Linked DNA regions of Homo sapiens. The protein of the gene in region 7 purifies or fractionates together with the protein of the main gene of each other region. This does not show direct contact. Each region holds a gene or a part of one and is shown on either strand. Other genes may lie near its edges. The genes, in order: GARS1, PRMT3, PLGRKT, PRRC1, DCAF4, SNX3 and SEC23A.

What was found.
Region 1: the proteins of SEC23A (region 7) and GARS1 fractionate together in Homo sapiens (co-fractionation; one large-scale study listed by BioGRID). This does not show direct contact.
Region 2: the proteins of SEC23A (region 7) and PRMT3 fractionate together in Homo sapiens (co-fractionation; one large-scale study listed by BioGRID). This does not show direct contact.
Region 3: the proteins of SEC23A (region 7) and PLGRKT purify together in Homo sapiens (affinity purification with mass spectrometry; one large-scale study listed by BioGRID and IntAct). This does not show direct contact.
Region 4: the proteins of SEC23A (region 7) and PRRC1 purify together in Homo sapiens (affinity purification with mass spectrometry; 2 studies listed by BioGRID and IntAct, with this or other methods). This does not show direct contact.
Region 5: the proteins of SEC23A (region 7) and DCAF4 purify together in Homo sapiens (affinity purification with mass spectrometry; one large-scale study listed by BioGRID and IntAct). This does not show direct contact.
Region 6: the proteins of SEC23A (region 7) and SNX3 fractionate together in Homo sapiens (co-fractionation; one large-scale study listed by BioGRID). This does not show direct contact.

The regions. Positions count from the first base shown.
Region 1 is NC_000007.14:30,597,126-30,601,624, forward strand, and holds part of GARS1 (glycine--tRNA ligase isoform 1 precursor), read left to right. Parts: intron 1-1,670; coding exon 1,671-1,772; intron 1,773-2,821; coding exon 2,822-2,924; intron 2,925-3,933; coding exon 3,934-4,075; intron 4,076-4,499. UniProt on the Homo sapiens protein: Catalyzes the ATP-dependent ligation of glycine to the 3'-end of its cognate tRNA, via the formation of an aminoacyl-adenylate intermediate (Gly-AMP).
Region 2 is NC_000011.10:20,502,390-20,506,888, forward strand, and holds part of PRMT3 (protein arginine N-methyltransferase 3), read left to right. Parts: intron 1-4,499. UniProt on the Homo sapiens protein: Protein-arginine N-methyltransferase that catalyzes both the monomethylation and asymmetric dimethylation of the guanidino nitrogens of arginine residues in target proteins, and therefore falls into the group of type I methyltransferases.
Region 3 is NC_000009.12:5,361,200-5,365,698, reverse strand, and holds part of PLGRKT (plasminogen receptor (KT)), read left to right. Parts: intron 1-3,810; coding exon 3,811-3,941; intron 3,942-4,499. UniProt on the Homo sapiens protein: Receptor for plasminogen. Regulates urokinase plasminogen activator-dependent and stimulates tissue-type plasminogen activator-dependent cell surface plasminogen activation.
Region 4 is NC_000005.10:127,537,676-127,542,174, forward strand, and holds part of PRRC1 (protein PRRC1), read left to right. Parts: intron 1-1,364; coding exon 1,365-1,468; intron 1,469-4,499. UniProt on the Homo sapiens protein: May act as a regulator of the protein kinase A (PKA) activity during embryonic development.
Region 5 is NC_000014.9:72,928,993-72,933,491, forward strand, and holds part of DCAF4 (DDB1- and CUL4-associated factor 4), read left to right. Parts: intron 1-572; exon of another isoform or gene 573-764; coding exon of another isoform or gene 765-828; exon of another isoform or gene 829-972; intron 973-4,499. UniProt on the Homo sapiens protein: May function as a substrate receptor for CUL4-DDB1 E3 ubiquitin-protein ligase complex.
Region 6 is NC_000006.12:108,250,339-108,254,837, forward strand, and holds part of SNX3 (sorting nexin-3), read right to left. Parts: intron 1-4,499. UniProt on the Homo sapiens protein: Phosphoinositide-binding protein required for multivesicular body formation. Specifically binds phosphatidylinositol 3-phosphate (PtdIns(P3)).
Region 7 is NC_000014.9:39,085,547-39,090,045, reverse strand, and holds part of SEC23A (protein transport protein Sec23A), read left to right. Parts: intron 1-3,037; coding exon 3,038-3,117; intron 3,118-4,139; coding exon 4,140-4,284; intron 4,285-4,499.

The DNA.
Region 1 (4,499 bases), on a different chromosome or scaffold from region 7:
GTCCTTAAAGATATCTGTGATGAGATGAGTGGTGATATTAACAAACGTGGATTTTTTTTTGATAGTATTTGGATAATCTGCGTAACTCAGTGAACCAGTGTTTTCCAGGTGACCAATGCATGATGTTATGAAATCAGGTATTGGTGAAAGAGCCATTCAAAGCTTAAGATACATTAATAGATTTATTCTGACAGTACAAAAAATTCATTGCTATAGTTTCTGAGTTAGAAATAACCTTGAAGAAGCTACCACTTGTCAGAGTTTTGAGGTAGTATCAAAGAATATCCACAATTATCCGAAACGGCTTTTAAAATTATTTTTCCTTTTCCACCTACATATGTCTTTCTTCATATACTTTACCCAGAACGTCATATTACAAAAGAAGCAGACTTTCCACATTGGTCTTTTAGGATTTTTCACAGATTAAGGTTACCAAAATAGTAAGTGCCAAACTCAAAATTTAAAAACCCATGAGGAAACAAGCCACCTTGAGTGAGACTTAGGGGAAATGATAATAGAATTAGATCCTCCAAAAGTATTAGAATAATCACATATTTTTAAAATGCTTAAGATAATTTTTAAAATAAAAGAAGTACTCAAAAACATGAGCAAAGAACAAGAGACTACCAAAAACAATCACACAGTGTGAAAATGAAGCACATATTGTATGGAAATGGATCACTGAAATTAGAAACTCTGTTGGGTGCCCAAGGGCTATATCAATTTAACAACTTTAATTACTCAGCTGAAAGTTTTTCATCCTATATAGGTAATATTTTGTTTGTTTACTCAGATGACCTATTCCACCATATTACTATAAATATGGAATTAGTATAAGTTGTTGGAAGTTAATAAAATAATTCAGAAATATTAGCAAGGAAAAAATTCCAACTGTAAAGAGAAAGGCAAAGGAAGATGAGCCAGCAGTGACTGAGAAGAATGGTCAGAGAAGTGGGAGGAAAACTGAATAATGTTTTTATTTTTTTTTGTAAGCGAGAGGAGAGAGATTTAAGAAGGTGGTCAATTTATTGGTTCTTCTGTGTTCTCAGTACAAATCTTGCTCTTTCCTACTTTTTAATCAATGCTTTTGTCTCCTCCTTTTTCACCCCTCTATACCCAAAGGAAAAAATTCACCATGTGAGCAGTTATTTGTTAACTTGCCCGTGTGTTCTTCTAGATTATTAAATGAAGAGGGCAGAGACCTTGATTCATAATGATCACTCACATAATAAACATTTGAATTGCATCATTCTTTTTTTTTTTTTTTTTTTTTTTCATTTTGAGACGGAGTCTCACTTTGTCACCCAGGCTGGAGTGTAGTAGCATGATCTTAGCTCAGTGCAACCTCCGCCTTCCGGGTTCAAGTGATTCTCCTGCCTCAGCCTCCCAAGTGGCTGGGATTACAGGTGCCCACCACCACGGCCGGCTAATTTTTGTATTTTCAGTAGCGATGGTGTATCACCATGTTGGCCAGGATGGTCTGAAACTCCTGATCTCAGATGGTGAGGAGGGCCTTTCAAAGTGCTGGTATTACAGGCGTGAGCCACCACGCTTGGCCTGAATTGCATCATTCTTACATAGACTTTTTAAAAGGCACGCTTAAAAACACATTCCTAACATTTCTTAACTTCTGAAACCAATCCTGAATATAAATTCTCTTTCTTGGCTAGGGAGATCTTGTGCGAAAACTCAAAGAAGATAAAGCACCCCAAGTAGACGTAGACAAAGCAGTGGCTGAGCTCAAAGCCCGCAAGAGGGTTCTGGAAGCAAAGGTGAGTCCTGGGATGCTAAAATAGGAACATAAGTAGGTATAGGATTGTTCATCTTTAATTTCTTTGGATGGGAGAGACCTAGAAAAGTTTCTGAACAAGTATCATTTGGTTTATCTGTTTATCCATAATGCCGCCTTCTCCTTTCCCTCTACCTGGTAGACTCCTCATCCTTTCAAAATGCAACTCAAAATGTCAACTTTTTAATAAAGCCTTCCTGACCCTGCAAATGCTGGACTCAATACGCTATATGAATTTCCATGGAAAGGATTGTGCTCTTCTTTACGACTTCTCTTATGCCTGAAAATAATGATTTTTGTTTGTTTGTTTGTTTTAAGGAAAAGGTCTGTTTATTTGATACCTGCTCCCAGACCTTTCAAACAATAGATCTCCCATCACCAAACTTAAGTTGTTTTGGGGTTTTAAAGTAACCATTTTGCTATAGCAATCCACTGACAATTCAAATATTGCTTTATATTGCTTATCAGTATCTACATCAAAGTAAACTTAGTCTTGTTTTTTTTTTGAGATGGAGTCTCGCCCTGTTGCCCAGGCTGGAGTGCAATGGTGCGATCTCAGCTCACTGCAACCTCTGCCTCCCGGGTTCAAGTGATTCTCCTGCCTCAGCCTCCCAAGTAGCTGGGATTACAGGTGCCCACCACCAAGCCCAGCTAATTTTTGTATTTTTAGTAGAGACAGTGTTTTGCCATGTTGGCCAGGCTGGGCTTGAACTCCTGACCTCAGGTGATCCACCCACTTCGGCCTCCCAAAGTACTGGGATTACAGGTGTGAGCCACCGCACCTGGTCAAGCTTAGTCTTGTAATCTTGGAAATGATCATATATTTTCCTAAATGATTAAGTAAAGATATCTTTTATATTACTCAAAGGGAAAAAAAGACCTATGGCTTCTATTGTTTTTAACCTATCAAAATCTTGTCTGTTTGATAAATTTTATATTTAATTCTGGTGAGGAATAAACTAAATTCAGATATATAAGTTCAGATTCCCACCCACCCCTCCACTCACTCACTTTTTATTTAATCTCTAACAGGAGCTGGCGTTACAGCCCAAAGATGATATTGTAGACCGAGCAAAAATGGAAGATACCCTGAAGAGGAGGTTTTTCTATGATCAAGCTTTTGCTATTTATGGAGGTAAGGGATTAATGACAAAAAGAACTATTGTGTTGTTAGTGGCTCTAATATTATACTTAAATCAAGAACATGGCTTGCCTGTTGGTATCCACTTGTATCAGGCCACAAAGCAGAGGATGGATGTTTTGCTTTTGTTTGCTTGGAGTCACCATTTGGTGTGATACCTGTTATTTTTCTCCACTGCATTTATTCCTGGACAGCACTTTTTTTGATTAGGATGTAGGGAATTGTTGGAGGCCCATGTATGTATTTGATGTGTCTGTGTACTCATGTACTCTTTTTAAAATGCAATGGAGACTGAAGAGTAACAGAGGGCCATTGTAGTACTGGCTAACTATACTATGCCCCTTCACACAGGGGCAGTGATAAAACAGTCCTTAGATTATTCTTTATGGTCATCTGCCAGGAGAAAACATTCTTCCCAGGGATGTAGATAAATCACTGTGAATGCCATATGAAGGTATATAGGCAAATACAATTCACTGATGAAATGTAAAACTATATTTTTCATAGTCAACGGATTATTACAACAACATTAGACATATAGTACTTTGCCACTGAAAGTTGACTTGAGTTTGGCTAAGTGGATCTGTAAATGTTTACCCTTTTGAGGTTAAATAGTGCCTCAAATACCCAGGAAAAAATTAGAGAATTGGATGCTAAAATTATAGATCATTGTTATCAGATGTGGTGAGAAATTATTTTGTAATTTTTACGGCAGAAAACTGTAATCTGCTTTTTCATTCTGTTCTCTAAGGGGGAACTTTTGTTGTAGATTTTGGGCTAGTCCTACTTGAAATTACAAATATAGAATTAGTAAATGGCGTAAGAGCTTTTTTATTTTACTTCCATCAGCTAGCTGAAAGTAAGGTTCTTCAGTATTGAGGGATTTGCATTGTTGACTTGAATACACTTTTAGGGAGTATAGGTATCAGTTTCTCATGTCTCCTTGCCTTCATTTGTTCAGAGTAACAAGGTAAAGTATGTGTTTTCCTCTCATATTCTATAGGTGTTAGTGGTCTGTATGACTTTGGGCCAGTTGGCTGTGCTTTGAAGAACAATATTATTCAGACCTGGAGGCAGCACTTTATCCAAGAGGAACAGATCCTGGAGATCGATTGCACCATGCTCACCCCTGAGCCAGTTTTAAAGTGAGATCTTACTTTGGAGTGGGGGTATCCTACTTTAAATAAAATAACTTATTAAATTATTTAATATACTTATCTAAATAACTTCCTGATTATAAAGAACTACTCATTTCATGTAGAAAATCTGAAAAATATGGAAAAGCAAAGAAATGTATACCTTCTGCTCACAGATAGCTATGTTAAGATGATTGTGTTTGTCCTTCCTGTTTTTTCTGTACGTCCCTATGTATTTCAGTGTTAGCAGTACACTGCTTATTTTCATGTAATATTGATGAACATATACTCATATCATTAACTATTCATCTAAAGCATTTTTAATGATAGCATAGTATTCTGTTTTATGGAAGTGCCATAATATGTTAGTTTGTGCCATATTGAAAGCATTAAAGTGTTTCTCATTTTTGACTGCACCGAATATCTTGATAGA
Region 2 (4,499 bases), on a different chromosome or scaffold from region 7:
ACCCTCATCTTTGAAATATGATTATGGAAAAGATTTACCTGTATTTCATTTTAAGAAATGAAAATCATGGTTATCAGCATCAGCTTATATATATGACATTATGTTAATTTTTCAGCTGCTATATTGATGCTTAGCATTTTTTCTTTTGTGAAAAATTAACAAATATCCATTACTAATTCATTTTGACTGGGGTTTTTTATTTCTAAACTGAGGAATGCATAGAACTCTTATAGGTACATCCTTTGATCCTGAAATGAAGATGATAACCAGATTTATAAGCACTATGGAACATTTCTATTTTGACTTGCACTAAGGATTGAATAGGACTTCTATAAACAAGACAGCTTACATATTTTTAACACTCAAAAGGCAATGTAAATGAAAGAGCAGCAACCATCAGAACAAATGTACAAAAATGAAATATTTACTAGCAATACCTCATATGCTTCAATGAGAAAAGAAGTAAGGTAAATGCACCAGATTTTTTAGATGGTAGTTAAATAAATAGTACTTATCTCCTCTGATTTGAAATACAAATCAGAGCAATCACGTTTTGGTTGTTGTTTTTCATTTACTCTTTTGTTGATGAAGATGGCAGGAATGTAACACTGGAATATATTTCATACCTTTTATGAAGGAATTATACTTCTGATAATCCATCCTAAAGAATCAATTCAAAATTCAGACTTAAAAAATACTTGTTACACAAAGACACTGCTTTAATTTGCTTTTCTTTCTTTAAACTATCTTGCTTTATAGAATTTTTTTTCATTTTTTATAGTCACATCTGTCAACCTTTTGCTTTTGGTGTCTGGCTTTGGTTTCATCCTTTAAAAGATTATATTACTACTTTTGTACAATGTATTGAATCCTTTCCTCAGTGACTTAAAATGCTCCACTTACTATGTACTGAGTCTTCATAATTGATCTTATTTCTCTCATTTGTCTGTGTTTATTCCTAGGCACCACATTTTTAAACAAATAATTTACATATAATCAAAATTCACACATTTTGATTGTACAGCTCATTGAGTTTTGAAAATTACATATACCACTGTGGAAATATAGATTATTTCCATCACTCCAAAAAGTTTCTTCTGCAATTCCCTGTATGGTCAGTCCCCAACCGTGATTCCCAGACCAAGACAGTCACTGATATGCTTTGTCATTATATGTTAGTATTACCTTTTTAGAATTTTTATCAATGGAATTATACAGCATGTACTCTAGCTTTCTTGGCATTTTTTTTTTTTGAGATTCTTCTATCATTAGGTTGTTCCTTTTTATTGCCAAGTAATATTCCTTTGGCTATGCCACAGTTTACTTAGGTATTCACCTGCTGCTAGACTTTTGTATTGCTTTCAGTTAGGGGCCATTAAGAATAAAGTTGCTATGAATATTCATGTAAAAGTCTTGGTGCAGACAGATGTTTTCATTTCTCTTGGGTAAGTACCTAGAAGTGGAATTACTGGGTCTTATGGTAAGTGTATATTTAACTTTATAAGAAACTGGCAAATTTTTTAAAAATGACTATGCTATCTAACATCCCTAGGGCTAACACCATTGTGAATTCAGTTGTTCCACATCATTTTTAACACTTATAAAAAAGATGCAGTATTTTAAGCCGTTTTGAGTATGTAGTTATAGCTGTGCTTGTAGTTTTCATTTGCCTGATGTGATGTTGGGCATTGTTTCATATGTGTATTGGCCATTTTTATATCTTCTTGTGAGATTTCTGCTCAGATATTTTGCTTGATTTCAAATTGGGTGGTCATCTAATTGAGTTAAATTTAAAAGTTAATAATAGTTCATCTTTTCCCAAATGTATATTCACTTGCTCCATCATCATTTCTTAAAAAGACTATCCTTTTCCGATTTAATCGCCTTGGCTCCCTTGTCAAAAATTAATTGACCATATGCATATAGATCTACTTCTGAGCTCTCATTTTCCCCCAGGGATCTGTATGTCTGTCCTTGTGCCTTTAAGACAGTCTTTATAAGATTGAAAAAGAACAAAATGGCAAGATTTACACAAACAGTTGTTTTGGCTATTCTAGGTCCTTTATATTGCCATATAAATTTTAAAATCAGCTCATTAATTTCTGGCCTAAGAAAGCCTGTTAGGATTTTGACTGGGATTTTGTTAAATCAATAGATTAGGGAAAATTGACATCTTAACAACATTGAGTCTTTCACTCACGAGAGAGTGGGTCTCTCCATTTATGTGGACCATCTTTAAAGTTGTTTTGTAGTTTATGTAAGTCAGACATATATTGTTACATTTATCTCAAGTATTGTATGTGTGTGTGTGTGTGTGTGAGAGAGAGAGAGAGAGAGAGAGAGAGAGAGAGAGAGAGCGAGAGCGACTGAGACTCGGTCTGTCGCCCAGGCTGGAGTGCAGTGGCATGATCTCTGCTTACTGCAACTGCCACCTCCTGGGTTCAGGCCATCCTTGTGCCTCAGCCTCCCAAGTAACTGAGACTACAGGTGTGCACCACATGCCTGGCTAATTTTTGTGTTTTTAGTAGAGACAGAGTTTTGCCAGGTTGGCCAGGCTGGTCTCGAATTCCTTGTCTCAAGTGATCCGCCCACCTTGGCCTCCCAAGGTGCTGGTATTACAGGCATGAGCCACCACACCCAGCCTTTATGCTTTTTTGAAGCTGTTGTTTGTAGTATTATATAAATTCTTCATTGCTAGTACGTAGAAATAGAATTTTTATACCTTGATCCTAAATCATAAGACCTTGCTTAAACTTCAATAAATAGTTCTAGTAGCCTTCTTTGCATATAGCTTCAGGATTTTCTATGTATAAAACCAGGTAGTATGCAAATGAAAACTTTAATTCCCCCTCCCCCAGTCTGTATCCTTTTTCCCTCCACACTTTAATGTCCTGACTAGGACATCTAATAGAATACTTACTTTATGTTGGGTCTCTGGAGGTCATTTTGTTATTTTTGAATCTCAAGTGTCCATTATCTGTCTTTTCATATGTGAACTACTTTATACCAGCAACTAAATTAAGTAATTTGTATAAGACATACTGCTTGTAAGTAAAAAGGAACTAACAAGCCACTGTGTTGTAAAAATCAAGTTTGTTGATTCAGTGTTGGCAATTCAATAACAGTAAGTTAAACCCAATAACCAAGTTGGCAATTACTATTCTCTGTCATGTATTTACAAAAACATTGTCAGTTTATCATAATGTGGCTGTTCGTTCCCAGTTTTGGTGTCAATAAATAACTTAAATAGAAGTTTTTAAATGTTGATTTAAAAAGAAGCAAATAAAATAGCCAAAATAGAAAAGTCAAAATAGGAAAATCTTAAATGTGTTCAATATACTAATGATCTTTTATTTCTTCCTTAGGTTAATGCCTTAGATAAGAAAACGTGTATCATTGTTCATTAGTTATTATAGAATAATAGTTACATCAACTTACATATCAATTGTGTTTATAAACAAGTAAATATTTTTACCAAAAAAAAAAAACAAAACCCACGGGGCGGTAAAATTTAGGTCTATTTCTTATTCATTATAGTATATTTAAAGCTATAATCATCATTTTTTTAGATAGAGATAGGGAAGCACCAGAGTATAGTTGAGGAACTTGGGTTCTGGAATCAAACTGCCTTGCTGAAAATCCTAGTTCTTTCACTAGCTGGCAGATGACCTTGGGCAAATTACTTACCTTTTCTGAACTTCATCTGTGAGTAAGGAAAATGCGCTTACCTCATAGCAATATTTTGTGACCATTAAGTGAGATAAATCATGTAAAGACCTTAGAGTAGAGCCTAGCACAAAGTAAGTGTTGAATAAATATAAGCATAAATTATCTAATGATTAACCTGAACTCCATAAAGTTTGTAGAACTATCTGACTGGTAATCTTTATTATGTCCACTATTGGTGAACATGTCATATGAGATAGTTTTATATCATTTTCTTAATATAGAGGAATAGGTCAGATATAAAAGCTAAAGCCAAATATACACATTAACATATATACGTACACAAAAATTGTTATATTTTGTTGAATGGATTGCACCTTGGGCCACATTATTTCTTCTATTATTTAACTCCTTAATTATGTGTTAAACTGTGAGTCTCACCTTTTTTGCAAAGATGTAGAGAAGGTATCAGTAATGGAATCTTTATATTCTGAAAATAAATATAACAGGTGGTTATGTTTTACTTGTGTTATTTCACTACCATCTTGAAAAGCATTCAGATAATTTTCCTTGAATATGGGGAATTTGTATTTTTTTAAATACGATATTCATTCAGTACTTCAATAGTTTTATGTAGATTTCCTTGGTCATTATATGGAGCCTCATTGTGTCCATGCAGATGCTAAAGCTATTCCTGACACTGTTTGGTGTTATCTTAATATTATTTAAGCAAAGAATGGTGATCAACTACAACTTAGCAATTTGTTACTTTTTAAACAGCTCTTTAAAATAAATGAAAAATTAAATGAGAAGTATTTATAATTAGAAAAGTA
Region 3 (4,499 bases), on a different chromosome or scaffold from region 7:
CATTGATCCATTACTATTCAATACATCCCACGTTCAGATTTCATTTGTTTGTCTCTAATGTTCTTTTTCTGTCCCAGAATCTCACCCAGGATGCCACATGACATTTAGTCTTCTTGTCTCTTTAGCTTCTTCATCCCTCACGCTGCCCTTTCATACTGTTTTCATTGGGAGCAAGTAACTAAGCAAAGCCCAAGATCAAGGGGTGGGAGTTAAGCTCCACTTCTTTGAAGAGGGAGGAGGAGTATGTATATAAATGAGTTGGAATTCTTCTGTACAGGATATTTGTCTCTTCTCCATTTATGTTAGTATAGGCTTATGGATATTTATTTTGTACTTTAGGTTATAATCCAACACTATGTTATTTATTTTGCTGATAAAATTGTTCCAGCTTTGGACATTAGGAGCTCTTTCAGATTGACCCCTGTGTCCCTTTGACATACTCCATCATCATTATTATTATTTTAGTATCTCTTGACTTTCTGGCACTATAAGATTCTGTAGGCTCCTCTTATACATTTCTTGCCCCAGTCCTAGGCCAGCTATTTCTCTAAGGAGCCCTGGTTTATTTATTTATTTTTTTTTGGAGAGTAGAAATCATGTCTGGGTGTTTCTGGGTGTTAGGTATGCTTGTTTGCAAGGGGTTGTTATTGCCTCTATGCCCTGTCAGTGGACAGAGCTGAGAAAATGTATGTACTTACACTAAGCCATGAATGCCTAATCTATGCATGCATATAGATATGCATATCTATAATTTCATCCTTGTCTATGTCTGTATCAAGCACTAAGCATGAGTTCATACGGATGTCATTGGCTCTAATCCAGTACCACATGGTTCATTCTAGTCTTTTCCTCTTGCTTGTTTGTAATCTCCCTGTTTAATAATAAGAAACCTGGCTTCCACCATCTTCTGTCAATTTACTTGTTGCTCATCTCCAGTAGACATGTAAAGCAGTTTCAGAATTGTTAATCTGTAACTCGTGAGAGACAGTTTTACTCACTAGAGTACAGTGTTTATGTATAGTCCTTTGTCTTTAGTTTTACAGTTTTTAGTCAAAATACCATTTTCCAAAGATAGATCAGTTCTTTTCCCCCAACCCTTCATTGAGGTTGTGCCACACATTTGTAGCACAGTCAGATTATTTTGTCACAGTCCCCATTCCATCTTGTGCATCCCTTGCCCTTTTGGCTGATTTGTAAAATTTGTATGCACTAAGGTTCACTCTGTGCTGTAAAGTTTTATGAGTTTTGACAAATGCAGAATGTCATGTATCCACCACGATAGTACCATACAGATTAACTCCATCACCCTGAAAGCCCCTCTGCTCACAATCTTTTGAGAGTTCCCAGGTAATCTCTTTCAGGTTGATATCTCAGGTTGATCTTTTGTGGGAAAAAAAATATGAGCTATGAGTCTTTCATTTCAGGTGACGGTTCTCAGTCCCGGCTGCACACGGGAACTATCTGGAAGCCTTTAGAAATTATGGATGCCTGATTTTACCTCCAGATCCTGACTTAATTGATCCCACTTGGTTTAGTTGGTCTGGGAGGTATATCTGGTTACTAGACCTTTGAAAATCTCCCCAGATGCTCATGATGTGCAGCAAAGGTTTAGAACCAGTCTGGACTCCTCTATTTCTTGTTTGCTGCCTTTTGATAAAAACACAAATAATTAATTGCTGTATTTACATCACTTTGGGGGATATGATGAATCAGTATGTAAGTTTTGTAAATAAGTAATGTGGCAAGGATGAATTTCACACACTAATCTTGTGCAAAAACACATCTATTTTTAAACTCTAATTGAACTCAAAATGAACCTCAGTTTCTCTTGGTGACAGCAAATTTAATTTTGACAAGTCAAAGTTACTCAATTACTTCTAGTTTAAAACTCGGTTCTTTGGGAGAAAATAGTTGAATTCAGCTTTCCTCCTCCCCTTCTCCGTTCATCTTTTCCCTGGTATGACCTAGGCTTGGGTCCAGGTGATCTCAGGTGGCACCAGCATCAGGGAAGGCACATCTAGCCAGATGCATCTGGGGATCCCCAGACAGAGAATTATGGCCCTGCTTCCTGTGGAGAATGTTGGGAGGGAGCAGGTACTGCAGAGCATAAATGGTTTCAGAGCAGACCTCACAGAGAGCATGCCTAAGAGAGGCCACTTCCGTCTCCCTCAGCGGCCAAGGGGTGTGAAGAAAGTCTGCAAGGTTCTCACATCAGCTGGAGAGGGCCAGAGAAGGTAGCTGAAGATTGAGAGCAGGTGGCCTACCAGAGTCCAAAACCTTGGGCCAGGGGACCCCATAACACACACTTGGGAGTGAATATAAGCCAGTGGCTGAGTGGGGAAGGCCACTGGATCCCAGAGGATCAGTAGCACCTGAGAGTATGGCGATGATGGTTACGCCAGCCTGGAACATGGCCACATGCCCTTAGGGAACATCATGTGGCGCTGTCCAGGTTGATTGAACAGAAAACAAAGCAGAAAAGCACTCTCGGGTGCTGCTGATCCTCTGGGATCCAGTGAGTGGCCTTCCCCACCCAGCCACTGGCTTATGTTCACTCCCCAAGTGTCTGTTATGGGGTCCGCTGGCTCTAGGTTTTGGACTCATTGGTAGTCCCCCTGCTCTCAATCCGCAGTTACCTTCTGTGCCCCTCTCCAGCTGATGTGAGAACCTTGCAGACTTCCTCCACACCCCTTGGCTGTTGAGGGAGATGGAAGCGGCCTCTCTTAGGTGTGCTCTCTGCAAGGTCTGCCCTGAAACCATTTCTGCTGTGCTGTAGCTGCTCCCTCCCAGAATTCTCCGCAGGAAGCAAGGCCACAAGTCTTCTCTGTTTAGGGATTCCCAAACCCATCTGAGGCTTCCGTCATATCTTCTGGTGATTTAACCTCCCAAATAGGCCAAGGAGCCAAGCCCCATCTTTACATCTAAACTATCATTCGCCCCTCCCAGCTACTCCCCTCAGTAGAAAGAGGGCATGGAGGGAAAACTAAATCACATTATTAGTCCTTCCTCTCCTCTTCCTTGCATCATGAACTCCCTGTGTATTGCCCTCTAGCTTGGCTAATGACATGTAGTGCCAAGATTTTAGAATTAAAACATCAACAACAATGCCAACAACACTTTTCTCTGTCAAGAATATAACTCTCTTCAAATAATGGGCTTGGGTTTACAGACAGTTGCTTCTCCTGAGTATTTTCTAAAAATCAATTTAGAAATTCAGTTTCCTTCTCTGTTCTGAGCCATCTGCCTTCTGTTCAAAGCAGTGAAAGGCACTGAACAAAGTGGTGAAGAACTTGAGGCGAGAAAAATGTGGCAAAGAAAAATCTCTATAGATGTCTCAAAACAACACCCATCTACTATGATATTGTGGTATGATATGGAGCAAATAAATACTCCAAATAAATTTCAATTTGGAATGGATTTGGAAGGCAGATTTCCATGCAAGTAGAAATAAAGGCCAATAAGATGTATCTACATTTAAAGACCCATAGATCTTTCCACACATCCAATAGGAAAAGCTGGACATTTATTTGAGACTTGGCTAAAGCTCCAGACCACAGGCAGTCAAGACCTCAGGGTGTAAAAATGGAATATTGATATTTATTCTGTATTTATTCCAGGAAGATTTCACTGCCAAGGTGACAGTTGGTGAGAGCTGTCCAAAGGAACTTTAGTCAAAGTCTGTTGAGATTTTTTTGAAAAAACATGAATTAAAGCAATTGAAGAATGAATCCGCTGGAAAAACAGATTATTAACTATTTGTTCAGATTCCAAAGATGAGTAACTTTACTTTGTCTTTTGTTTTGTCCTTAGCTGGAAAGGCAGCTCATCATGCAGAGTGAAATGAGGGAAAGACAAATGGCCATGCAGATTGCGTGGTCTCGGGAATTCCTCAAATATTTTGGAACTTTTTTTGGCCTTGCAGCCATCTCTTTAACAGCTGGGTATGTTTGCTATTTAACATTTTCTTCAGTCATTTACTTCTTTTTGTGTTTTCCATTACCATTTTATTATGAAGTTGGCCAGAATAAGACTTTGGTCCAAATAGTGTATGTAACCAAAGTAACCTATTAACCTTAGTCCTTGGGGGTAACTCTGTGAAAGCAAGGCAGTAACAGTTAATTTAGTTTCCTAGGTTGCTTCTGTCTTTTTCTCTACTTTATTAGTTAGAGAGAGAGAGCACCAACTTGACACCAAGAAGGGCTCTATGTGTTTATCTCCACAATCCCTTAGTGGTAGATACCAATCCTTACTCATTTTAAAAACAAGGAACCTGAGCTTCAGAGTCAAATAAAGATGAGCAAGTCACAGACCTTGCCCTTGAGAACTGCAGAATCTGGTTAGGGGTATTGGGTAAGGAAATCCTATTTCCATAGAATTATCAAATGTGTTAAGTAACTTCTGAAGGAAAAGGCATTCTTCCAAAAAGCAGGTATTTTTTTTTCTTTAAGTATACAGATATGTATTTACAGGTTATTTTTTGATATTGGTTCTTCTTTTAA
Region 4 (4,499 bases), on a different chromosome or scaffold from region 7:
TATCACCTGCAAAGAGTTAGGGGATGAATCTCTGTACATCTTACTAATCCCTTAATAGTTTTTACGGAATGAATGTTTACTTAAGCTTTTTAAAAATCAAACTTTAGCCATAACTGCTTCCTGGGAGGAGTGAATTAGGCAAATTTGTAACATCTGGTATAAATAACTAAGTTCATCTTATCTGTTAATACTGCTTTCAAAATCAACAGGTGCCTCTTTAAGTGTTATTAGATTTGGTGATGCCATATTTACACTATTTGTATTCTTAACATTGACCACATAGGCCTTCAGAAGCATTTATTTTTTTCTTTGTTCAGTTTTTTATGTGGTAAGTTCTTATTGAACACCTATTAAGTTAGGCACTGTGCTGGAAACTAGAGATAGAAGAGTGAGCAAAAATATACAATCTTGGTTTTATTGTACTTTAAATCCTATCATCTTCATCTTTACAAGCTAGTATCTTAAATTGTCTTACACGTTCTCGCACAGTTGTCACTTTCTCTTTTTCACTTCAGTTGTCTCTGAAATAAATTGAGTTTTCTCGAGATGTGTCCTAGCCTTCTTAATTTTCATTTGGATAAGAATTTACCATTTAATCTGATATTGTCTGTTTACCTCTGCTGTCCTTATAAAAATTATCCATGGCTACTTCTGTTCAGACTTCTTATCTTGCGTTTTGAACACATATTCATCACATTGTTCATGGTCACCTTTTATGAAAGGATTCAGATAAAAGCAATAAACAGAAACCTTTTCCCTCAGTCATCCAGCTTTTAGTTTTCTATTACATATAATCAGTTCATGTCTTCAATGGTAATTATTTTGTTGAATAAGCTGTGGTGTAATGTATACATTTGCAGCTTTTTATTTTAAGTAACTGGTCATTTTGGTGCATGTATATTTAAAAGGAATCAGAAGAAAGAGAAAAACATATTTATTATTGATATGATTGCCTACCTGAAAAATTCAAGAGAGAATTAACTGCAAAACTGCCAGAACTGATAAAAACTTTGTATGTAGTAAGATGGTCTCTTGCCAGATCAACATTAAAAAATACAGTTTTCTTAAATTATTTAACAGTAACAATCAATGAGAAAATGTAATATAAAAATAATCCACAATAGCAACCAACATCATAATGCATATGGAATAATTTGGAAGGTGTACCCCAAACTGTTGATACTACGGAAATGTAATTGTATTTTGTCATTTTTTACTCTACATTTTTGTATTGTTTGAACGTTTACAGTGAGTATATATATGTGTTTGCATATAAATGTATGCATGTATTGTGTAATCATAAATTAGTATATTTAATATGTAATAATTTGAAATGGTCTCTAACCTCTGCCATTGTTGTTTAGGGTGCTCAGGAACGGATAGATAGCTTGCGTCGAACTGGGGTGATCCATGAAAAACAGACAGCTGTGTCAGTAGAAAACTTCATTGCAGAATTGCTGCCTGACAAGTAAGTGTATTATGTTTCTCTTGGAAGCAAAATATAATTGGGTCTGGGAGTTGACACTGAATACTTAGCAAAAAGTGTCTCCTGTTTTATAACCAGAGAGAAAAGTATATTTTGATGCTGGCTATATCACTTAACTAGCTGTGTGTCCTGCATGGCTTAGCTGGCATTTCTATCCTTGTGTCTCTTTTTTAATTATAAAATGGAGATGGTCATGCCTGCTTTCTGAGATCATGCTAATAATTAATAAAATGGCACTAAGTATAAGATGATAGATTTGGTGTGGATATAATTGACCATGAGTAGCAAACACAATTATTCTCATAGTTATTCAAAGTCGTGGAATATATGGGCAAGAAGGCCTGATGGCATTCTCTAGGTTTGAGTTTCTAGTGAGCAGTATCTCTCCTGTACTCATAATAGTTTAGAAAAACCTCCAGACAGCATAATTTATCATTGTTTTTCAGGTGGCTTTTTATGGGAAAAATTTTTAATTTGCTTAATTGATTTATATTAGAATAACTTCCCTTTGTTGAAATCTACCTTCTTTTGTATTTGCATTATGGTTTTGTTGTTTTTATTTTTTATTTGTTTGTTCAGTGTTGAATAACAATGGGCATAGCATTTTGTGGCTTGTAATATGCAAAATATATCCTCCAACTTTGAGGCATATTATAGGCCAGTGGGAAAGAAGATATATGTAGTACACAGATGAGCAGTTTTAAGTAATTGTAAAAAGGAAACATAATTTTTTGCTGACAGGAAATATATAAAATTTCAGTGGAGGTAACTCTGTGGAGATAGTGTCAGGTGAAATTCATGAATAATTAGGGCTTGAACTGGATTTTGAAGAAGAGGTGAAACTTGGCCAAATGGAACAAAGGAAGTAGGATGTTCTGGGTGGAGAAAAAGTTTGAAGGTAATTGAAATGTATTCTTGGGTCAGTGATTATATCAACTTGGCTGAAGGTTTGTTGGATGGGAAATCAAGAGGTGACGGGACAAATTGTGAAGAGCTCTGAATTCTAGGTTGATAAGTTTCAACTTTCTATGTAAGCACTGAGAAACCGTCCAGTGATTGTTGTGTCATTTTTTTTTATTAACCTGTTACTGTTCATTTAATAATTAACATTAGAAATTACAATATGCCTTTTTGATATAACAAAAATTATAACTTGTGATAATACTAGTACTACTTTTAATACTATTCACTCCCTTTTCACCTTTTGCGGTATCATTGTTAAGTATTTTAATTCTGCATATATTTTAAGCTCTTAAGACATAACTGGTAATGTTCTTTGCAGTCAGTATTTGTTTATTCTCTGAATTCTTTCTTGCATTTCTGTTTTTCTGTCTGGGGTCATTTTTCTTCGAAAGGAAGCCTAAAGTACTTCCTTTGATAATACATTATAGTTCAGAGCTGCTCACTACCAATTCTCTCAGCTTTTGTTTATCTGAAAGTGCTTTAATTCACCTTTATTTTTGCTGGATGTAGAAGTCTAGGTTGGCAGTTTCTTTTCTTTCAGCACTTTAAAAATGTCATGGTACTGTTTTCTGGCTTCCGTCATTTCTGTTAAAAAGTCATCTCTCCATAAATGTTTTCTTTTGAGAAGTGTCTGTTCATGTCCTTCGCCCACTTTTTGATGGGGTTGTTTGTTTTTTTCTTGTAAATTTGTTTGAGTTCATTGTGATTCTGGATATTAGCCCTTTGTTAGATGAATATGTTGCGAAAATTTTCTCCCATTTTGTAGGTTGCCTGTTCACTCTGATGGTAATAGGAGTGGTGAGAGAGGGCATCCCTGTCCTGTGCCAGTTTTCAAAGGGAATGCTTCCAGTTTTTGCCCATTCAGTATGATATTGGCTGTGGGTTTGTCATAGATAGCTCTTATTATTTTGAGATACGTCCCATCAGTACCTAATTTATTGAAAGTTTTTAGCATGAAGAGTTGTTGAATTTTGTCAAAGGCCTTTTCTGCATCTATTGAGATAATCATGTAGTTTTTGTCTTTGGTTCTGTTTATATGCTGGATTACATTTATTGATTTTGTGTATATTGAACCAGCCTTTCTTCCCAGGGATGAAGCCCACTTGATCATGGTGGATAAGCTCTTTGATGTGCTGCTGGATTCAGTTTGCCAGTATTTTATTGAGGATTCTTGCATCCATGTTCATCAAGGATATTGGTCTAAAATTCTCTTTTTTTGTTGTGTCTCTGCCTGGCTTTGGTATCAGGATGATGCTGGCCTCATAAAATGAGTTAGGGAGGATTCCCTCTTTTTCTATTGATTGGAATAGTTTCAGAAGGAATGGTACCAGTTCCTCCTTGTACCTCTGGTAGAATTCGGCTGTGAATCCATCTGGTCCTGTACTCTTTTTGGTTGGTAAGCTATTGATTATTGCCACAATTTGAGATCCTGTTATTGGTCTATTCAGAGATTCAACTTCTTCCTGGTTTAGTCTTGGGAGAGTGTATGTATCGAGGAATTTATCCATTTCTTCTAGATTTTCTAGTTTATTTGCGTAGAGTTGTTTGTAGTATTCTCTGATGGTAGTTTGTATTTCTGTGGGATCGGTGGTGATATCCCCTTTATCATTTTTTATTGCGTCTATTTGATTCTTCTCTCTTTTTTTCTTTATTAGTCTTGCTAGCGGTCTATCAATTTTGTTGATCCTTTCAAAAAAACCAGCTCCTGGATTCATTAATTTTTTGAAGGGTTTTTTGTGTCTCTATTTCCTTCAGTTCTGCTCTGATTTTAGTTATTTCTTGCCTTCTGCTAGCTTTTGAATGTGTTTGCTCTTGCTTTTCTAGTTCTTTTAATTGTGATGTTAGGGTGTCAATTTTGGATCTTTCCTACTTTCTCTTGTGGGCATTTAGTGCTATAAATTTCCCTCTACACACTGCTTTGAATGTGTCTGAGATTCTGGTATGTTGTGTCTTTGTTCTCGTTGGTTTCAAAGAACATCTTTATTTCTGCCTTCATTTTGTTATGTACCCAGTAGTCATTCAGGAGCAGGTTGTTCAGTTTCCACGTAGT
Region 5 (4,499 bases), about 34 Mb from region 7:
GCCCCGATGTGTGCGGGCTGCCATCCCCCACACTTGGCTCCGGGGCTGGTCGGTGTTGGGCGTCCCAGCACTGCGGGCGGCACGGACGCCCGGGGCTGCTCCCTACTGGGTGTAGCGCACCCCGCCCCCCACCCCGCCCGGCCTCCTCTGGGCCTGCGCCTTGGGCCTATTGAGGCCAGGCCTGGAATGGTGCCCTGGAAGCAGGAAAGAGCCTGTAATTCCGGAAGCTGCGGGCTCCCAAACCAGACACCATTTTGGAGACCGGTGCAAAAATGTGTGCCGCTTTTGTGTGGAAAACTGCTAGACTGTGAGAGAGAGCCGACCTCCTCATGCATGAACCTTTATAGAGGGTGGTCCACATATTCTGTGCACTACATACACATACGCTGGGCACATACTGGCTCTCTGTGTTAAATCTCAGATTTGCTGCCGCGCGTGGTGGCTCACGCCTGTCATCCCAACGCTGCGCCAAGGCAGGAGGATCGCTGGAGGCCAGAAATTCGAGACCAGCCTGGGCGGCAACAAAGCGAGACCCCGTCTCTACAAAAATATTTTTTATTTTTATTTTATTTTTCCGTCAAGCTGTTCTTTATTTCAGGAAGAGGGCAGGGGAGGGGGCTCAGTCTTTCTTGGCAGCGGCTTTCCTCATGGCAGCCAGTACCTTGCTCAGCTCCTCCCGCTTCCTCTTGGCACGGATGTGCGTCCCCACCCTTTTCTTGATGAACTTGAGGGCCCATTTCTCCTTGAAGACCTTCAGTGACTCCATGGCGCGCAGCTCGTACGAAGCGAAGCCACACACCTCCCGGATCATGTCCCGCTACAAACTTGGTGCGTTTGCTCAGACGCCCGCGGCGGCGGCTGTGCCTGGGCTTGCTCACGTTCTTGGTCACCTTGTGGCCCTTGTTGAGGCCCACGGCCATAAGGTAGCGCAGAGCCATGGCTGCTGCTCTCCATGGCGGCCGTGGCGGAAGGCCAAAAATATTTTTTAAATTAGCCTGGTGTTGTGGCTCGTGCCTGTAATTCCGGCTACTCCGAGGTTGAGGCAGGAGGACGGCTTGAGCCGGGGAGATGGAGGTTGCCGGGAGCGGAGATCGCGCCACTGCACTTCAGCCAAAAGGGGGGTAGGAGGGAATAAGTAAATAAAATTAAATAAATAAAGTGGTATCTCACTGTGGTTTTGATTTGCATCTACCTAAGGACTAATGATGTTGGGTATCTTTTCATGTGCCAGTTGGCTATTTGTGTAGCTTTTTCTTTTTTTTTTTTGAGACGGAGTTTTTTTTGTTTGTTTTTGAGACGGAGTTTCGCTCTTGTCGCCCAGGCTGCAATGCAGTGGCACCATCTCGGCTCACTGCAGCCTCCACCTCCCGGGTTCAAGCGATTGTTCTGGCTCAGCCTCCCAAATAGCTGGGACCACAGGCGCCCGCCACCACACCGAGCTGATTTTTGTATTTTTAGTAGAGACGGGGCTTCGCCATGTTTATCAGGCTGGGCTTGAACTGCTGTCCTCAAGTGATCCGCCAGTCCCAGCCTCCCAAAGTGCTGGGATTACAGGCGTGAGCCACTGTGTCCGGCCCTAAATAATGTCTTTCGATGCACGGAAGTTTTCAATTTTGATGAAGCCCAATTTATGTGTGTATGTGTGTGTGTATATATATATATGTAGTGTGTGTGAGTTTTGGGTGTCATATTTGAGAAATCATTGCCTAATCAAGATCATGATGATTTATACCTTTGTTTCCTTCAAAGAGTTTTATAGTTTTAGATCGAGATCCATTTTGGTTCATTTTTGTCCCATATGGTATGAAGTAAGGATCCAAATTCATTCTTTTGCAGTTTGATATTCAAATGTCCCAGCAGTTGAAAAGACACTTCTTTCTTTCATTGAATGGTCTTGGCACCTAGATGAAAACCAGTTGACCATAGATAGGCATATGGGTTTATTTCTGGTCTCAATGCTACTCCATTGATCTATATTTCTATCCATATGCCAGTAACACAGTGTCTTGATTACTGTAGCTGTGTAATGAATTTTGAAATTGCGAGGTGCGAGTCATCCCAACTTTGTTCTTTTTCAAGATGATTTTGGGTATTCTGGGTCCCTTGCATAATATGAATTTAGGATCTGCTTTTCCATTGCTAAAAAAATGGCATTTGGAATTTTGATAGGGATTGCATTCAATCTGTAATTTCTTTCAACAGTGTTTTATAGTTTTCTGTGTACACGCCATATATTAATTTTGTTAAATATATTCCTAAGTACTTTTTCTCTTTTTTTTTTTTTTTTTTGTAACTGAGCCTGAGCAGGACCAGAGGAGTGCTTTATTCTTTTTGATGCCATTGTAAATGTAACTTTTCTTTCATATTCAGGCTGTTCATTGCCTGAACCAGTGTATAGAAATACAACTGGTTTTTCTATATTGATCTTGTATCCTGCAACCTTGCTGAATTCATTTGTGAGGTCCAGTAGATTTTTGGTGGATTCTTTAGGATTTTCTGTATATAAGATCATGTTTGGTTGCCTTTTCTTTGTCTTGCCTAATTGCCTGTCTAAAACTTCCACTACAATGTTGAACAGATGTATTGAGAACCAACATCTTTGTCTTATTCCTGACCATAGAGGGAAAACTTTGTCTTTGGCCACTAAGTATGATGTTAGGTGTGGGTATTTTGTAGATGCTCCTTATCAGGTTGAGGAAACTACCTTCTGTTTCTAGTATGTTGAATGTTTTTTTAATCATGAGAGGATGTTGCATTTTGTCCAGTGCTTTTTCTGTGTATCAATTGAGAAAATCATGTGAGGTTTTCCCCATCTATTAGTATGGTATATTGATTGATTTTCATATGTTGAACCAACCTTATATTTCTGAGATAAATCGCGCTTGGTCTTGGTATATAATTCTTTTTATATGCTCCTGGATTTTGCTTGCTAGCATTTTGTTAAGGATTTTTGTGTCTCTGTATTCATAACCCATACTGACCTATATTTTTCCTTCTTTTTTTTTTTTTTTTGAGAGATGGAGTCTTGCTCTGTTGCCCAGGCGGGAGTGCAGTGGCATGATCTCGGCTCACTGCAACCTCTGCCTCCCAGGTTCAAGCGATTCTCCTGCCTCAGCTTCCCAAGTAGCTGAGACTACAGGTGTGCACCACCACGCCTAACTAATTTTTTGTATTTTGGTAGAGATGAGGTTTCACTCTATGTTGGCCAGGCTGGTCTTGAACTCCTGACCTCAGGCGATCTGCCTGCCTTGGCCTCCCAAAGTGCTGGGCTTACAGGCGTGAGCCACTGCACCCGGCCTTGACCTATATTTTTCTTCCTATATCTTTGTCTGATTTTGGTAACAAGGTAATACTGGCCTTATAAAATGATTCGGAAAAATGTAGTAAATATCTTGGAATCATTTTTGTAGGAGCAGTTCCCAGAAGGAAGGCATGTACATTTGTAAGTTACTTGATAAATATTTTCCAGTCATTTTCCAAAAAACCAAATTGTGTTTATTTGTGATTAACATTGCCTTTGCAGAATAGTAGTCTCTTAGAAATTATAATTCTTAATGCCTTGAGGTACTTAAAAGTTTCTCTGAAAGACAAAGGCAAGCCCAACCTTCTGCAACACACCTGATTTTAACATCTAGAGCAGCTCCAAAGGTGCTAGATGCAGCATGTTACCAGCAAATTGTTTTCGAGTGCTTCCTACATAGAACAGGTTTTCTCAGCTTTAGCACTGTTTTGGGCCAGGTAACTCTTTTGTTGTTGTTTTTGAGATGGAGTCTTGCTATGTTGCCCACACTGGTCTCAAACTCTGGACTCAAGCCATCCTCCCACCTCAGCCTCCCAAGCAGTTGGAACTGCAAGTGTGAGCCATCACACCCAGCTGAATAATTTTTTTTTCTTTCTTTCTTTCTTTCTTTTTTTTAATGTTGTTTGTTTGAGACGGGATCTTGCTATGTTGCGCAGGCTGGTCTTGAACTCCTAGGCTCAAGCAATCCTCCTGCCTCGGCTTCCCGAGCAGCTGGGATTATAGGCATCAGCCACTGCACCCAGCCCTGGATAATTCTTGCTGAAGAATGTGTGGAAGCTGCCCTGCGCATTGTAGGGTGGTTAGCAGCATCCCTGGCTTTTACCCACTAGGCGCTAGTAGCAGCCTACCCCTCCTTCTCCCGAGCTGTGACAAACAAAAATGTCTCCAGACATTGCCAGATGTCCCCTGGTGGGCAAAATAATCCTTAAGAAGCACTGATCTACAAACTGTGATGCATACTGGGTTTTATATTATTACTAGATAAAATTGTCTCTAATGGCCAGGTGCGGTAATCCCAGCACTTTGGGAGGCCGAGATGGGCAGATCACAAGGTCAGGAGTTCGAGACCAGCCTGGCCATTATGGTGAAACCACATCTCTACTAAAAATACAAAAATGAGCCAGGCATGGTGGCATGCGCCTGTAGCCCCAGCTATTCGGGAGGCTGAGGCAGAAGAATCGCTTGAACCCAGGAGGCA
Region 6 (4,499 bases), on a different chromosome or scaffold from region 7:
ACTACTCAGTTCTGCCCTTATAGAGTAAAAGTGGTCTTAGATAATATGGGAAGAAATGGGTATGCTGTGTTCCAATAAAACTTTATTTATAAAAAAAGGTAAGCCCATAATTTGCCAACCCTTGCTCTATTTAAACTCCTCAGTGTCCTAAGAATGTCCTCAGTTATATACCATGGGGGAATCTTTGGGTGTAAATTTAAGACAAGACCTGGTGATATACACATACATGCCTAGCTGACAAGATTTTTCTCTACTTGTTTCCACTTGAAGATAACCAGTAAAGTCAAGACAAGAGAGGGGTGAGATACCAAGACCAGACACAAGGAGGGGCTTTGAGACTCCTCTGTTTCTCAATATGGACGAGACTTATACAACAGAGAACTTCATCCCACAAGGGCAGGACTAGAAAAAACGGAAAGCAAACAAGCTATAGGTGGCAGGTGCTAAAATAACTTTAGGAAAGCCAAAAGAAATGCTCCATCAGTGATAAAATCAAAGTTTACAGAACAAATAATTATCAAATGACCATTCCAATACTGCTGGACACAAAGTAACTTTACAAAATTATTTTAAGTAATTCTCTACTTCTCTGCTAAGAGATTAAGTGATTCTCTGCCAAGAGACACTGGCTTCATTTATTTTGGTGGCTCAAATTATATACTCCATCATTCAATGTCAGCAACTACAATGGTGGTCCTAAGTAAAACCAAAATAGTTTTAAGCAGCCTTGGAAGGAAAAAAAAAAAGGTTAATCAACTACCTTTAGAATCTCTAGCCCAATCTCAAGGTATACCCCTATCAGATATGCCATGTCTTCATGCTTGCCTTTTTTCTCAACTTAACAAAATTAATTATCATGAAAGAATCAAAACTTACTCACTTAAGACTTCCAAACTAATGAAAGTACAATTTTATTTCTTGCAAATCAAATGAACTTACTCTAAACTGAAATTCCAGGCATTAGCAAAAAAAGGAAATAACAGATGATCACAGTGTAGCTTAAAGCCATATCCTAGAAGGGCCAACCACAACCATTTGTTAATGTGGCAAAGCAAAGAACAGTGTCTACTCTTCCCTTCTTCACATGGCCACCTGGTTAAATTTCCCAGCTTCTTTTGTAGCTAAGTACAGCAATGCGCAGAAACAGAAATAATACGACTTCCTGGTTGTGTCCTTCAAGGGCAGAAATAAACATTCCCCTTGGCTAGAATGTGAATATGATGTTAGAAGCTGATAGTCAAGCCACAATACTAACCCTGGACTGTACCTGAAACCTCTCCATGTGGAGAAAAAAACCAAAAAAACAAAAAATTATCCTCTTTATCTGAGAACAGCCCAAACTCTATACTACCTGATACAACCTTTCTGGCAAGCTATAGCAAACGTCACATTTTACTAACACATTCCAAATTCCTAGGTTGTCAGTTAAATATTTCTTTAAAGAAGTAGTGGCCAGGCGCGGTGGCTCATGCCTGTATTTTGGGAGGCTGAAGTGGGCATATCACTTGAGGCCAGGAGTTCGAGACCAGCCTGGGCAACACGATGAAACCCCATCTTTACTAAAAATACAAAAATTAGCCAGGCATGGTGGTGCACGACCTATATATTCCCAGCTACTTGGGAGGCTGAAGCATGAGAATTGCTTGAACCAGGGAGGCAGAGGCTGCAGTAAGCTGAGACTGCACTATTGCACTCCAGCCTGGGCAACAGGGTGAGAGACTGTCTCAAAAATAAATAAATAAATAAAACAAACAAACAAACAAAAAAATGAAGTAGAACTTTGGTTGAAAGCTTTGTCTTTTAACTAAGGAATCAAAACAGTAAACTGCAGTTCCAGTTTCCTGTGCTGGGTCTAAGGAAGGGATGGCAGGCACCACGTCCAGCTTCCTGACAGGCACCTACGGCAAGAAGCCCCTGACGAGAAACAGGCCAAGGAGATGTATGAGGAAGACAAGGATTTCAAGCAGAAACAAGAAGAGGAGCAGAAAAAACTTGAGGAGCTAAAAGCAAAGGCCACAGGGAAGGGTTCCCTGGATAGGTGGAATTAAGAAATCCGGCAAAAGTCTATGGCCATTCTATCCTGAATGCAATTGCTCGTCTGATCTCAGAAGCTAAGCGGGGTTGGGCCTGGTTAGTACTTAGAAGGGAGAAATCTGGAAAACAAGAACAAAAACCAAAAAACAAACCACTGTGTCCGAGGCAATGATGACCCTTGATCCCATTCCTATTTAAATATCTGCATTTCCTACTATAAAATCTTCTGCTTCCACTCTAGGAAGCAAAGGATGAAATGTCTTGGAGCCTGTTGCACATTTAAGAATAAACTTTTTTTCTCTTTTTCTCTTTTTTTTTGGCACAGAGTCGCGCTGCCACCCACCGCAACCTCTGCCTCCAAGGTTCACGCAATCTTTGTGCCTCAGCCCCCTGAGTAGCTGGGATTATAGGCATGCACCACCACACTGGCTAATTTTTGTATTTTAGTAGATATGGGGTTTTGCCATGTTGGTCAGGCTGGTCTCGAACTCCTGATCTCGAGGGATCCACCCGCCTCAGCCTCCCAAAGCGCTGGGATTACAGGCATGAGCCACCACACCCGGCCCTAAGAATAAACTTCTGGAAAAAAGAAAATAGCAGTTCCAAGATTTTTTTGGACACCATCTTTCTTATCTGATGTTCAAGAAATTGCTGGCTCTATTTACATGAAAGCAGCATAACATGGTACAAACATCAAAGTATCTAATAATAACAGTCTACTACTTTCTGGAAGGGGTGAGATAAGCATGATGATAAAGGTGAGCAGGAGAGGAAAATGTCTATTGCATGTGATCACCAGGATAGCTCAAAGCACTTTTTTAGATTTTCCCCTTTACAGGTATAAAGTGACAATATTTATAAAGATTCCTTTTTTGAGGCATGCTTGATGGCATGCAACAGTAATCCCAACTACTTGGCTGAGGTAGGAGGCTCACTTGAGCCCAGGAGTTCAAGACCAGCCTGGACAACACAGCGAGAACCTGTCTCCAAAAAATTCCTTTCTTAAATGAATACATATGTCTTTTTTTTTTTTTTTTTTTTACTTCTGGCTTACTTTCATGATTATTATACAGGGATATAGACATGGATGATGCAAGACAAGGGCAAAAAGATCTGGCTTGATTGAATGTAGTCTGTGTCTCCCCTTCCTCCCAAAAACTTAAGCTGTAGAGATTGGTATGCTTTCAGTTAATATTTAAATGCCTCCCCTCCAAAAAGTTTTCTATCTTTGACAAATGTCACTGGTTTTCCTCTCTGTTGCCAAGATCTGCTATTCATTTTATGTTTTACTATTTTAGAATCTATTTTTTTAATCCCATCAAAGCTACCAACCATTGTGGTTCTATGTATATTTCTCTTCCTTCTCTACTGTCTATCTATCTCAGTGAGACAGATAGCATGATAAGCAGCAGGAGAAATCCTTGCTGCATATAAGTGCCCTTACTGGGATGCTTTTTAAACCACCACTGCCGGCCGGGCTTGGTGGCTCACGCCTGTAATTCCAGCACTTTGGGAGGCCGAGGTGGGTGGATCACGAGGTCAGGAGATGGAGACCATCCTGGCTAACAAGGTGAAACACCATCTCTACTGAAAACACAAAAAAAATTAGCCAGGCGTGGTGGCAGGCACCTGTAGTCCCAGCTACTCGGGAGGCTGAGGGAGGAGAATGGCATGAACCCAGGAGGTGGAACTTGCAGTGAGCTGAGATTGCACCACCTCACTCCAGCCTGGGTGACAGAGTGAGATTCCGTCTCAAAGAAAAAAAAAAAAACCGCCACTGCCCAAACCCCACCCCACCCCAGTAAAAGAGAACCTGAATGGTTTCAAAGGCTCCTCAGGTGATATGAATTTTCTGTGAGGGCTCTGGGCAACCATGGTAAAACCTTGTCTGAGACAAGCCTGGGCAACATGGAGAAACCCTGTCTCTACAAATACAAAAAAATTAGCCAGGCATAGTGGCGTGCTCCTGTAGCCCCAATTACTCAGGAGGCGAAGGTTGGGAGGGTTGCCTGAGCCCAGGAGGTCGAGGCTACAATGAGCCCAGATTGCACCACCGTGCACTCTAGCTTGGGCAACAGAGTGAGACCCTGTCTCAAACAAAAGTACGGGCTCTGAAGGTCCGAAAATCTAGGTTCAAATCCCAGTTTTACCATTTAATAGCTGTGACCCTGGGGAAGTTAACTTTCTTAAACTTCATTTATTTGTAAGTGTCCACTATGTGCCAAGCAGTGTTGGATATTGAGTAAGGGTGATTATGACAGTCCCTGTCCTCTAAGAGCTTATAATGGGTGACACAGGAACTTACAGGAAGCCAAAGACAAGCAAACAAATTTATTCCTAACAAAGCTACCAGGGCACACAGGAAGGAAATCTGGTCCAGAGTCAAGGGATCAGCAAAATCTTTAAAAAGGGGACATTAAGGCTGAGTCCTGCAGGATAAGTGATAGTAACCAGATGAGGCTCTT
Region 7 (4,499 bases):
GAGGATAATGAGTAATGAATGCGTTAGTCAATGAATAGTGAATAAGATTTGAGAAGGTAGAGAAAGTTGAAATTTGTTCTTTTTCTTCTGAGACAAGAGTCTCGCTCTGTCACCCAGGCTGGACTGCATTGGCACAATCTTGGCTCACTGCAACCTCCGCCTCCCGGGTTCAAGCTATTCTCCTGCCTCAGCCTCTCGAGTAGCTGGGACTACTGGCACCCGCCATCATGCCCAGCTAATTTTGGTATTTTTGTAGAGACGTGGTTTCACTATGTTGGCCAGGCTGGTCTTGAACTCCTGACCTCAGGATATCCACCTTCCTCGGCCTCCCAGAGTGCTGGGACTACAGGAGTGAGCCACCGTGCTCGGCCTGAAGTTTGTTCTTTTAAGAGGTTTGTTGAAGGTAATGAAGGAGGAGATAGCATGGGAATTTGAGAGAGAACTGAGTTAAAGAGATGTACTTTAGGAGGAAGGAGAAAGGAAAGAGACTAAAGAGGGTGAGTTAAAGCAAGAGTGAGATGAGGAAAGTCAGGTTTAGGAAGACATAGTAGGGATTCCTTCAGGAGCACAGGAAGCGGAGTACCTTAGAGAGGAGAATCATGTTTCCATGAGACAGGAGAGAAAGTGAACCAGTTGAAATCTCTGTGCTTTAGTTTTTTTCAATTGTAAAATAGAGATAGTAATAGTATATACCTTATAGTGTAGTCATGAGAATTAAATGAATTGTACATTTAAGCATTTGCTACTATTAATGTTATTATTAAATTATGAATTTATTTAGAATAGTTTACTGTTCTGATTGTAGAGTACCTTTTACTTATATAATGCATATGAAGCACATAAAACATCTTCCTTTTTTTTTCTTTTTTTTTTTTTTTTTGACACGGAGTCTTGCTCTGTCACCCAGGCTGGAGTGCAGTGGCATGATCTTGCAATCTCCGCCTCCTTAGTTCGAGCGATTCTCCTGCCTCAGCCTCCCGAGTAGCTGGGACTACAGGCGCATGCCACCACACCCGGCTAATTTTTTTTTTCTGTATTTTTAGTAGAGACCGGGTTTCACCATGTTGGCCAGGATGGTCTTGATCTCCTGACCTCGTGATCTGCCTGCTTTGGCCTCCCAAAGTGCTGGGATTACAGGCGTGAGCCACCGCGCCTGGCCAATTTTTGTATTTTTTAGTAGAGACAAGGTTTCACCATGTTAGCCAGGCTGCTTGAATTCCTGAGCTCAGGTGATCCCCCTGCCTCAGCCTCCCAAAGTGCTGGGATTACAGGTGTGAGCCACTGAGGCCGGCCTAGTTTTTTTTTGTTTGTCTGAGACAGAGTCTCGCTCTGTCACCCGGGCTGGAGTGCGGTGGCACGATCTCAGCTCACTGCAACCTCTGCCTCTTGGGTTCAAGCGCTTCTCTTGCCTCAGCCTCCCAAGTAGCTGGGATTACAGGAGCATACCACCATGCCTTACTAATTTTTGTATTTTTAGTAGAGTTGGTGCTTCACCATGTTAGCCAAGGTTGGTCTTGAACTTCTGACCTTGTGATTTGCCCACCTTGACCTCCCAAAGTGCTGGGATTACAGGCATGATCCACCGCACCTGGCCCTAATTTTTGTATTTTTAGTAGACATGGGGTTTCACCATGTTGGCCAGGCTGGTCTTGAACTCCTGACCTCAGGTGATCCACCCGCCTCGGCCTCCCAAAATACTGGGATTACAGCTGTGATTCACTGCGCCTGGCCACATCTTCCTTTTTTCAATAGGCAAGTGAATGCCTGCAGACTGAATTTTTTTTCTCCATTGAAACATGTTTATTTTCTTTCCCTATTTAGATTAAATTTCCCTATTCTTTCCCTATTATTAGTTGAAAAGAGCCTGGCCTTTGCTCCCCAGATAGTCCTGGATTCAAATCTTAAACTCTTCTGGTTGTATGATCCTGGGTTTTTGTCTTTGCTGATTGTGTCATCCTTCATAGAAAGGAATAAACTACCTATTTTGCCAGGTTATTAGTACTAAATATGAAATTCTCAATATGGTGTAAACCCTTATAGAGCTTTATAGAAAAACCTGGATTTAAAATCTTGCTTTGTTACTTACTGATTGTGTAACCTCAGACAAATTACTTAGTCTTTCTGATTGTCAATTTTCATTTATAAAGTAGAATTTAAGAAGAAATCTATTTCATTATTGTTTTGTGAGGAAATAGTATATATAAAGGTTTTAGCATAGAATATGGAACATATTAAGTTCTTAGTAAAGAGTTGCTGTTTCTGCTAACAGTATAGGAAATATTGCAGGATTAGTTCACTAATTTTATCTTTGTACATCTTTAGACTTCAGTTTTCTGTTACACAGTTTTATAACTCCAGTACTTCATGACTAAGCATTTCTAGATTCAAGAAAAATTTAGTATAACATTATTTTCATTTGTCTAGAGAGAAATTGTGCACATATCTGAAATTCAAAACAAAGGTGGCAGTTCGTAGTTTGGTTATGAATTACATTAGAAAATCAAGATGTATATAGGTACAAAGTACGTGAGCCTTATAACTCCCCAAGTCCTAACATTTACTACTGTTGCAATTTTACATTTATTTATCTGTTGATTTGATTAATTTATGTTTCTGGATTTTAATTTCCATGAGGGAAGGGACTAGTTAGTTTTTACCATTGTATTCCTGCCACATAGCAGGTGCTTATGATATAGTTTGCTGAAACGGATGAATGAATATAAATTAAGAAGTATGGACATTTAAGTTACACAACAATTTATTTTGACTGTTAATTAGAAATAAAGTGTTTTTGAGCTAATATGCCTCCTCTTTGGTTATATAACACCTTGTGCTTTTCTCTCTCATGATGATTATTTTGTGTTATTGTTTTCTTGATAATCTCTCCCACTGGATTCTTTGTTTTCTGAGGAAGGAGACCTTGTATTTTTTATTTTTGTGTTTCTAATGTCTAGCACAGCATTTTATACATGATAAATAGTTGATAAATCTTTGTAAAAGTAATTAAATGAATATTGCACAAGTAATCTCTTTACAGGAAATGCTGGGGCTCTCTAAAGTACCACTTACTCAAGCAACACGTGGTCCTCAGGTACAGCAGCCACCTCCTTCCAACAGGTAATAAATATGATGAAGAGAATTTGACCGTTTCTGTAGCTATTTTAAACATTCCATACCCTTGAACATAGGCATTCAGTGATACTATATTGTTAAATATTTTTAGGAATATAAGTAAATTGTATTAACATACTTTTTAAAGAATTGAGTCAAAATCATGTCATTAAAATGGTTTGTTTTTTGTCTTAACAATGTAAGGAGTTACTTTAGTTTTGTTATTTTCCTTATTTTTTATTTTGAACTTTGGAAAAAACTTGTTTTTGTGTGGTTTTAGGGCAGCCAAGGTTTTTATTTTTTCTTCTTAGCTTTAGAGGTAGCTTTTCCCGCTAAGGTTTCTGGAGTGCAGTGGCATGATCTTGGCTCACTACAACTTCCGCCTCCCAGGTTCAAACAATTCTCCTGCCTCAGCCTCCCAAGTAGCTGGGATTACAGGCATGCACCACCATGCCTGGCTAATTTTTGTATTTTTTGTAGAGACGGGGTTTCACCATCCCAATCTCCTGACTTTATGATCCTCCCTCCTCGGCCTCCCAAAGTGCTGGGATTACAGGTGTGAGCCACCGCGCCCTGCTAGCTTTTTCCCCTAAGCTTTCTAATCAGAGGTAGTATTACTAAAATTTAGTTGATGTATTTTCTCATAATTATTTCAGTAACCTAAAACTTACTAGACTAGTGAGAGATGAAATCCTGAAGTACTTGGTTTGAGTGTTTCGTTTATTGTGGTTGTATTCAAAATGTGGTTTCTGGGGCTGTTATCATCACGTGTCACCTAGGAATGCGTTTGAAATGCAAATTCTTCGGCTCCACTCCAGACCTACCGAAACAAACTCTAGAACTGGGACCTAGCAATATGTGTTAAAACAAGCCCTCCAGCTGGTTCTCATATACACGAAAGTTTGAGAACCATTGGTCTGCTGTGTGTTCAGAGTGTTGTTTTCTATTTTTAGGAAAGTGAAATTTGTTTATCGAACTCTCACCCATAAACATTTACAAATGGCTTTTTATTTAATTCTGTTTCTTAGATTCTTACAACCAGTACAGAAAATAGACATGAATCTCACAGATCTTCTGGGAGAACTCCAGCGAGACCCTTGGCCTGTACCACAGGGAAAGAGACCTTTGCGTTCCTCTGGGGTGGCACTTTCCATAGCTGTAGGACTGCTGGAGGTAGGGAAGATGGTTTTGTTTTGGAATGTAAAGTGTGTGTGTGTGTGTGTGTGTGTGTGTGTGTGTGTGTGTATATATAATTATAAGGATAAGAAGAACCAAAGTGCTTTTTTTCCTCCCTATTCTCTCACTCAGCATCAACAAAGAATACTTCTATGGTTTTCCCCCACATACCAACCAAGCAGTTCTGCCTTCGATACCACCTGGGTGTCCTG